Linked DNA regions of Homo sapiens: region 1 is linked to region 2. Evidence: fine-mapped expression QTL. Tissue or cell type: esophagus mucosa. Region 2 holds a variant in brackets; the other region holds the start of a gene. All regions are shown on one strand. Distances are from middle to middle.

Region 1 (5,008 bases), 32 kb after region 2:
CCCATTTTTAAAAGTTATCACTACCAGATTTTCCTGCAGCCCTAGGCCCAAAAGAGTTTCTCTCATCCTCTTTCAAGCCCTCCCCATTCTGAAGGGACTTGCCCTGGATGTTTATAGGACAGCTAAGTGGCCCTAAGGAAGAGTGAACTTTGGAAAAAGATCAGCGGAAAAGAATTAAGTGGGACTGTATTCCTAGCAGGTACTTTCAAGATGAAATCTATAAACTGATAAGGAAAGCTGAAAACACAATATGCTCCTGAAATTGAAATATGTATATTTTGGTCTGTTGAAACCTAAGAATGAAACTGAACCAGGTTTTGGCAAATTAATTGACATTCCCCAAGCCCTATTTGTTAAGTGGGTGTTCCTTGGAATCACCTGTGGGGCCAGGAAAGAAATAGAGGGACGAGAAAGAAGGGTGGTAAAGAGGAAGGGAAGAAACCAGCACTGTCCCAGAGGCAGAGCTGGGTGTGTGCTGAAGTGCTGAGGGTGGGGGAAAGACAAGATTTTCACACCAGAAAACAAAGAAACAAGCAGAGGCCCCAGAGAATTATGTGGTCCTTAAAGTTTGGAAGCCTTTCTCTAATTCCTTATCAACATCCCTCAAGGAATCAGAAGTAAACTGTTAACTGAAGCTCCTCCTCAGTAGACTGAGCCACCCACAGCCAGATAACTGCACAATCAACTAAAACTTTACTTCACATGTATTAGGTGCATGCATAACACTACTCCAAGGCATGATGGACCTATACAAGGCCAAGCAAGGTGGCTCACAACTGTAACCCCAACACTTTGGGAGGCCAAAGCGCTTGCACCCAGGAGTTCAAGACCAACCAGGGCAAGATGGTGAGACCCCATCTCTACCTAAAAATTTTAAAAATCAGCCGGGTATGGTGACACATGCCTGCTGTGGGAGGATGGCTTGAGCCCGGAAGGTGGAGATCCACCATGATAGTGCCACTGCACTCCAGCCTGGGCGACAGAGCGAGACCCTATCCTATTAAAATTGTGTGTGTGTGCGCGTGCGCGCACGCATGCGTGTAAAAACTGTGTGTGTATATATATGTGTGAGTGTATATATATACACACACACATAAACTCTGGTAACTATTAATAAAATGCAAGACAGAGGTAACTACCACCACTGGTACAAAGTGCACTTTTTTTTTTTCAGACGGAGTTTCGCTCTTATTGCCCAGACTGGAGTGCAATGGCACCATCTCGGCTCACCGCAACCTCCGCCTCCCGGGTTCAAAGGATTCTCCTGCCTCAGCCTCCCGAGTAGCTGGGACTACAGGCATGTGCCACTACGCCCGGCTAATTTTGTATTTTTAGTAGAGACGGAGTTTCTCCATATTGGTCAGGCTGGTCTCGAACTCCCGACCTCAGATGATCCGCCTGCCTCGGCCTCCCAACGTGCTGGGATTACAGGGGTGAGCCACCGCGCGCGGCCCAAAGTGCACTTTTTAATATGCCTTCACTATTCAACCACGGGCACTCATGGGCCAGAAAGAACAAAGGCACAGTTAACTCCACTGCTCTGGAGAAAAGAAAGCTGACAACAAGGAATCTGATGCCTTCCTTCAGTGGGAAGGAAACACCCTGACATTGGAAGTGGTCTCCACACCGGGTTGTACACTGATGGGGGGCGGAGTCGGGGGCAGGCCAACACCTCAACAGCAGTCACCAAAAAGGTGCTTTTAACTATCAATAGCAAGTATTAACATGTTTATAGATTGCTGCTAACAGCTGGCCAAAGAAAGGTACATACAAATGCCCCTTTTTAAAAAACAAAAATAGCAAGGATTGTAACCGTAGGGGTGGGGGGCGGGGTGGGGGAAGCACACACTAAAAATCAGTTTGGGCAGAATTTAAGCTGTTAAATGGACACACTTAGCAAACTCTCTGGGCTCCATCGGCCCCCACCTCCCCTCTGGAAACATCGCCTCGCCCAGGAATTAGGACTGCGTGTATGTTCGCCTAACACCTGCTGCGGCCTCCAGCGACATCGTCGCCGACAGGACTGCGCTGGCACCCTCCCTGCTGGGCTAGTCCTGTCTCCGTCACTAAACGCCTGTGACCTTAGGTAAACTGCTTAGTCTCAGTATTCTCATTCGTAAAATGGGGATGAGAACACAGTCGTCGCAGGATCGCAGCCAGAATTCGTTTCATTCAACACGGTGCCTGGCACTTCTATGTGGACCTGCGGGCAGACGCGGCGACATTCAACAGAGTCCAGGAACCGCAGGCCCCGCGGCCTGGGCGGTCAACCTCGGAACCTCCTGCAACGCTGGCTCCCGGGAAGCAGACCCAACTCCGCGGGGCGCCTCCACCTGCCAAGCCCCTCCAGCCGCGCCTCTCCCCGAGCCCGCCAGCGCCGTAGGGGCCGCAGGGCGCAGGGCTTCGGAGGACCGGAGGCCGGGGCGGGGACAGCGACCCGGCGCCCACCCCGAGGGCCCCACGCGAGGGCACCACGTCCCCGGCGTCTCCCCGGGCTCCAGGGGCAGCAGCGCGGCTCGGAGCCCTTTACCTGCCAACGATCACCACGCAGCCGGCCGCGGAGGACGCCATGGTTGGGCCGGGGACGCGGCGCCGCGGGCGCTGGGACCAGGCGCCGGCGGAGCTGCGAGCTCTGGGCTCCGGGGAGGGCGGGTCCCGCGCCCATTGGCTGCGCGCGCGGACCGGGAGGGCGGGGAGGGCCGCTTGGTCCCTGAGTGGGGTGCGCGCCGCGGGCCCGAGACACCGGGAGACACACGGCGCGCCGACCCTCGTGGGCAGGGGCAGGACCAGCGCGGGGGCACGTCGGGGGGTGGAAAGCGGGAAGACCACGCGCTTGTGACTGTCAGCATTCACCGTGAAGTCCGTGTCTATAGGAGGGGACACGGGCAGGCTGGCACGGGCTCTAGCGCTAAAGCACCCTAGAGAAACTGTCAGAGAATGTCCCCTTTGCTAATTCGTCTCTGAAAGACGCCTGCCGCTGCCGCCAACTGCGAACTGGGCGCAGGGACTGCGACAGCAGTGAAAGAGAACACCTGATGCGTTCATCTGCGCTACGGAAGGACACGTCTGAATTCCTCCACGGAGCACACTCTGCACTCGGTTTATGTATCAGAAAAAGGAAATGCCCTCGTGCCCTGACTCCTGGCCTTCTTGGAGCCCGGAACAGACCAAGAGGAAGGGGCATCACACATTGCCTGACAGTGGTGTGCGTCCACACAGCACAAGCTGAACGGGAAATGACACAGTCATTAGACAGAGGAGACAGTACTCAAGCTGGAACCGCAGCCAACACTGAGATGATAAAAGGAAGTCTTCCTTTGTTTCCCCTGAGTCAGGAACGTGGAAAGAGAAATCTCAGGGGAGGGGTTAGGTTTTTTTGTTTTGTTTTGTTTTTTAAAGAACAGTTTCACAAATTATCGATAAATATTTGTAAAGTATTCAACCTCAAGAGAAATGAAAAGTAACACAAGGAAGATAAGTCATCTCTCACTCATCAGATTGGCTAAGTCACATGGATTGATTATATTCCCATATCCGTAATGGAGTGTTTCGGACATGCAACTTACACACAGTAGAAGGCAAGCTTAAATGTTGAGGACTTTTTGGAGGGAATGTTACAGTACATTGTTGAGACAGCCGCTAGCCTGAGCAACCGCGCCTGCTCTGGCTGAGAATACAAGGCTCCAAAGCTTCCATCTTCTGATGGAGCAGTTTCTGTAGTCAGTTACACAGGCAGCCAATATAATAATCAAGGCACCCAGGGAGTGAGCATCCTGTGACTGCTCACTACCGGAGGCTATGGGGGCAGCAGACTGGCTTGTTTGCTGCTCCCTGCAAAGTCATGCCTGAAATCCCAGCGCTTTGGGAAGCTGAGTAGTAAATAATAGCTTGAGGCCAGGAGTTCAAGACCAGCCTGGGCAACAAAGCGAGACCCCTGTCTCTACCAAAAAATTAAAAAACTTATCCAGGCTGGTGCCGCCTGTAGTCTCAGCTACTCAGTAGGCTGAGGCAGGAGGATTGCTTGAAGCCAGGAGTTTGAGACCAGCCTGTGCGAGATAGTGAGAACCCCCCCCCCCGCATCTCTAGTGTGTGTGTATATATATGTGTGTGTGTGTGTGTGTGTGTGTGTGTTTATATATTTATTTATTTATGTGTACATATATTTATAACTTTAATCCTTCTGGTACCAAACAAAAAAAATACAGATTTATTTAAATTAGCCAGGTGTGGTGGTGCATTCCTGTAGTCCCAGCTACTCAGGAGGATCTCTTGAGCCCTGGAGTTCAAGGCTGCAGTGAGCTATGATTTTGCCACTCTACTCCAGCCTGGCTAACAGAACAAGACTTTGTCTCAAAAGAAAGCAAAAGTGGCTGGACGCGGTGGCTCACGCCTGTAATCCCAGCACTTTGGAAGGCCGAGGCGGACGGATCACAAGGTCAGGAGATCGAGACCATCCTGGCTAACACGGTGAAACTCCGTCTCTACTAAAAATTAGCCAGGCGTGGTGGCAGGCGCCTGTAGTCCCAGCTACTCGGGAGGCTGAGGCAGGAGAATGGTGTGAACCCAGGAGGCAGAGCTTGCAGTGAACCAAGATCACGCCACTGCACTCCAGCCTGGGCGACAGAGCGAGACATCATCTCAAAAAAAAAAAGAAAGCAAAAAGTGCTGGGCCCTTGCTCGTTGCAAACACAGGAGTCATCTGGCCCTCTATGTAACCCTGTGGGAATTAAGGATCCAAGAACCCATATAAATATGGTGTCACTCTGGCTATTGCTTTTACTGTAATAAGATAATTTATTTTTAATCCAGGAGTCTCGTGACTTCTGTCAGCATCCAAGTGCAGAACCTCTGTTGCAATTTAGTGAAAATCTCAGACCCTTGCAGTTTCTGACATACACAAAATTTAGAATGTATGTACCCTTTGGCTTAGCAGTTCCAATTCTAGAGATCTGTTGTACAGAAATTCAAGTGGACAAGAAGTTAGACAAATTTCTTTATTTCAGCATGG
Region 2 (5,000 bases):
GGCCCTAAATTTTTTTAAAAGGAAGGAAAGAATCTTTGAGATGTTTTTCTCATATAAGTAATTTGGAAGATTCGTAATATATCAGCTTAAAAAAATCTACTTATCTTAAAATAGGGCCATAAAACAGCTATCTTATTTTGGACAATTATAAGGACAAACATACTGATCCCTGCTCAGATCTCATCACCCACAAAACAACTCAGTGTTAAGTACTAAATATCCTGGACCACCATCCCCAGTGAGCAGGCATTTTCAAATTTTCATATAGAACAAATTCCTTGAATTAGAGGCTTATAAAGTTAGTGAGGCCAGCCACAGTGTCTCACGCCTGTAATTCCAGCACTTTGCGAGGCCAAGGCAGGCGGGTCACTTGAGGACGGGAGTTTGAGACCAGCCTGGGCAACATGGTGAAACCTCGTCTCTACAAAAAATACAAAAACTAGCTGGGCGTGATGGTGCACACCTGTAGTCCCAGCTACTTGGGAGGCTGAGGTGGGAGAATCACTTGAGCCCAGGAGGTGGAGGCTGCAGTAAGCCATGATTGTGCCACTGTACTCCAACCTGGATGACAGAGCGAGACCCTGTCTCAAAAAACAAGCAAGCAAAAAACAAAAGTAAGTTAGTGAAAAATATACAAAACCAAATATGTGTCTTGGCCAGTTCATCTGGAAGTTTACTAGTTGCATAGGGTACTATGAGGTGTCTTAGCAACAGATTAGAAATTTAAGATTTCTAATAGCTAAATCAAAAAAGAACTGGTCCAAGGTAAGTGCCAGTAAATAGATATTTGAAACATCATGGAGGGAAATATAACAAAAAGGGTCATGAGAAAAGGTTCCTCTATTAAGGTAAAAAGGAAACGCAGACATTCACGGGTCCTACAGGGTCCTGCGATTCAGCATCAACAGCACTCAGCACACTTCCCTGAACACAGACTGTGCCTCTTAAGTGGCTTTATTCAGGAAAAGAGAGCACCATGTGATCCAAAGCTCATTTATCATTCACTGTGTAGTATGTTTTGATCCATCTTTGAAAATGTTGTTACACAACTCTGTAAACATACTATAAAACCACTGAATTGGACGTGTCAAATGAGTCAATTGTATGACATGTAAATTTATCTCAATAAAGCAGTAGCATTAATATCTTATTGCTACTGTAACAAATTATCACAAACAGTGGCTTAAACAATACAAATGTATTATCTTACAGTTCTAGAGGTCAGAAACCCCAAGTAGACTAACATCAAAGCGTCAGCAGGGAACGCACTCTTTCTGGAGGTTTCAGGGAGAATGCATTCCTGGCCTGTCTCAGCTTCTAGAGGCTGCCTGCATCCGTGGCTCATGACCCCTTCCCCCTCCATAGCCAGCCAACCCTGCCCCACCTGTTTCTGCCATCATGTCTCCTTCCTCCTTTATCCCTCTAAGGACCCATGTGATTACACCAGGCCAAGCCAGCTATTCCAGGATAATCTCCCCATCTTGCCATTCTTAATTCAATTACATCTGCAACGTCCCATTTGCCATGTAAAGTTCTGGCTCATCCAAAGCTATGCCAAAAATCTGGACATCTAACTGTGGTTGCAGGTATATTGTTCTGAGGATGATATGCAATTTGCTCCTGCCAGGCACTTGGGGGTGCTACCAACCAAGGAACCAATCTGAATTCTTGGCTTGGGGGTTTTCCAGATGACACAGGTAGTATGAATTTGAGGATTGCTCTATGGTTATAAATTCTCAGAGAAACTCTTCCTCCCCTCCACTCAGAGTCAATGCCCCCACCGGTGACCCTCCATTTAGGGGATCCAAGTTCTCTTTTTCGCCAATGATGTAGCTGTTAGAGAACTCTAGCTTCTGTCAGAGATCTCCAATTAGATTCCCATCTTGCACAGACTCGGGTTGGCTGTTACAATCGAAGCTCTAGATTAGCAAGACTGAGCAGCCGCCAGCTGTGGCTGTCAAGCACCCCTTGGAACTGGT[G/C]CTCCGAGGCAGGCCTCTGAAATTCTCCATTACCTTCTTGCCATGTGAGCTTACTACCATGACTTCCACGGACTGGACCCCACATGTGAATCTGGGCCAATGGCAGAGGCCCATAGGCAGCCGGTGGTGGCTGCAGTAACCAGCCCAAGGGAAGCCTGAGCCCTATAGCGACAGGGCGGTCAGAAATGCAGACCCAGGCCAGGCGCGGTGGCTCACACCTGTAATCCCAGCACTTTGGGAGGCCGAGGTGGGCAGATTACCTGAGCTCAGGAGTTTGAGACCAGCCTGGCAAACATGGTGAAACCCCGATTCTACTAAAAATACAAAAATTAGCCAGGTGAGGCTGCACATCCCTGTAATCCCAGCTACTTAGGAGGCTAAGGCAGGACAATCACTTGAACCTGGGAGGTGGATATTTCAGTGAGCCGAGATCACGCCACTGCACTCCAGCCTGGGCGACAGAGCTAAACTCCATCAGAAGAAGAAGAAGAAGAAAGAAGGAGAAGGAGAAGGAGAAGAAATGCAGACTTCCACAGTGGGCAGACTGGTTGAGGGCAGGAAGGAGCAACAGAAACACAGCCCGTAGTGGAGTCACCATGACCACAGGCCATAAAAAGTCAGGACTTTAGAAAAGGACACAGCCACCCTATAACTGCTGTGAGCTGCCAGAGCCACTGGCTGACTATCAGAGGCTCAGGTGTCCCCTGAACAATGTCTGTTTCTGCGACAAAGATGCAGCCGCAGAGATGGTGTCCTGTATCTCTTACTCCCTCGCCTGGTATCACAATCAACCCTCATCAAGAGCAGAAATCAGAGTACCCTGTCCTTTATAGCCTGAAAGGGCCTAGCGCAGACTTTGTTTGGAGATTACAACACATTTGAATTTTTCAGTTTTTAACTATACGATTTATATAAGTTTGACCTGCAGCAGTGGCTAAGCCTTGGAGTCAACATTGGTAAAAGACAACCACACTGCCCATAAACACAACCAGAAGAAAAACATTCATATGGCAGAAGAGCTATTTGTAGCTACCAAGCAAAAACTCACTTCAGCTTAATTGAAAGTTTTTTGTGTTACGGAGGAATAAGTGAGATGTTTAATACTGCGCCCATTGCTTTTCTAAGACTATTTCCTTTTCATAATTTATTTAAGAAATTTTAAATGTAGAAAGAATAATAAACATCCTCATCTCTCCACCCTCCAGAACTAACCACCGCCAATCCTCTTTGTCACTTTTTAAGTAAACAAAACCTAAATGAATCTCTTAGCGCCATCATCCCAGCCTCACCCAACCATCTTTCCACTGAACACACACAGGGTCTCTGGATGCCAAGGTCTGGGAACATAGTGAGTAACCATTGCATCCTTTAGGAAACTATGTCTGAGCGCCTGATGTGCTCAAAGCACCTGCTCCAAGCCTTAGTAGGCCAGCTGTGCGTCTTCAAACCTTTCCACTAATCCAAAGCAAACTTTTAGCCTTTTTTCCCAAAAGTACTGCATGAGATTAGACAGATAATGGGAGAACAGGAGTCTCTTGTTCCTCGATCCTCCAGGGACCACCCCGGAATGAGAATGTCCCATGGAGACAGCAAGCAGTGGCAAGAAAAGACACAACCACTCGCCTCTTTCAGAGCAGACTCAGGCTGAGGAATGTGCAGTGGTGGTTCTGCCTCAGGCCCTTCCTCCCTGGGCAGCACACACAGGTAGGACAGAGAACCTGGGCATGAGGGAGAGACACGGTCACACATGAACCCATCAGCCAACTGCAAACTCCAGGACCCTGCTGTGTGGTCCCGAGGGACGTCCAGTGAAAGCTGCGGAGGAGCTTCCGACATCTGCAGACAGACCCCTGTGTTCTCTTTAGGGCCAACAAATCCACATGCCACAAATCAAACCCAGCCTTTTGGCAACATTTTGTCCCAGTTAGATTAATTCCAATTTTTTTTATTCTTTTGGAAGAACTTCTGCATCAAGCTTTGTAGAAGACGTACATAAACACCTAGAAAAGATGTGCCAATCAACCGGGATTTTCAAATGCCACACACATACCAGGCTGTGGCATTGCCACACTTAACAGTTAACGTCAGGTTAGAGGCACTAGTAGAAGGCTGCAATGTGCCAGTTCTACCTCTAGAGGTCAGCCTAACACTAGGACTCAAAATACTGGCTCCTAACCAGTAAAGTTAAATTTTTACTTAAAATTAGAGAAAAGGAAATGTTAACAATTCTCACGGTAGGACAGGGTATGGGTGATTTTAATTTTTTTTAATGTTTCTATCTTTGAAATGTACTCAAAAGGAGCATGTATTTATTTTTAAAAAAGACTGAAGAAATTGGAACCTTGTGCACTGATGATGGGAATGTGGAAACGGCACAGCTGCTGTGGAAAACGTATGGTGGTAACTCAAAAAGTTAAAAATAGAGCCACCATATGATCCAGGAACCCCACTGCTGTGCATATATCCAAAAGAACTGAAGCGGGATCGCAAAGAGAGATTTGCACAGTCATGTTCCTAGCAGTGTTGTCAACAACAGAAGAAGCAAGCAATCCAAAAGTCCACCAACAGATGGAGGGATAAACAAAACATGGTTTCACACCTACGGTGGAATCTTATTCGGCCCCACAGGGGAAGGAAGTCCTGTCATATGTCATATGCCAGGCTGGAGTGCAGTGGCGCAGTCTCAGCTCACTACAACCTCCCCCTCCCGGCTTCAGGCGATTCTCCTGCCTCAGCTTCCCAAATAGCTGGGACTACAGGAATGCACCACCACACCCAACTGATTTTTGTATTTTTTAGTGGAGACGGGTTTTCACTCTATGTTGGCCAGGCTGGTCTTGAACTCCTAACCTCAGGTGATCCACCTGCCTTGGCCTCCCAAAGTGCTGGGATTACAGGTGTGACCCACCTCGCCCGGCCTAGGATGAACTTTTTACTTAACATTATGCTTAAGTGAAATAAGCCAGACACAAAAGGACAGATGCCATATGACTCCACCTACAACAGGTACCCAGAGCAGTC

Evidence for each region. PIP is the estimated chance that this variant, and not a neighbour inherited with it, causes the effect.
Region 1: it holds the start of CRYL1, and the variant in region 2 is fine-mapped to the expression of CRYL1 in esophagus mucosa (GTEx, PIP 0.98).

Annotation. Positions count from the first base shown.
Region 1 is chr13:20,523,224-20,528,231 of GRCh38, forward strand. CRYL1 (crystallin lambda 1) reads right to left here and starts at 2,634. Exons shown (of 8, transcript NM_015974.3): 1 at 2,531-2,634. The coding sequence starts at 2,571. RefSeq lists a silencer at 2,310-2,859 and an enhancer at 3,040-3,149.
Region 2 is chr13:20,491,203-20,496,202 of GRCh38, forward strand. The region is part of intron 2 of CRYL1 (crystallin lambda 1); the gene reads right to left. Among named protein-coding and RNA genes, the nearest start is that of CRYL1, 32 kb to the right of the region's middle. RefSeq lists an enhancer at 2,140-2,639. The variant G/C (reference allele first, on the strand shown) is at 1,980.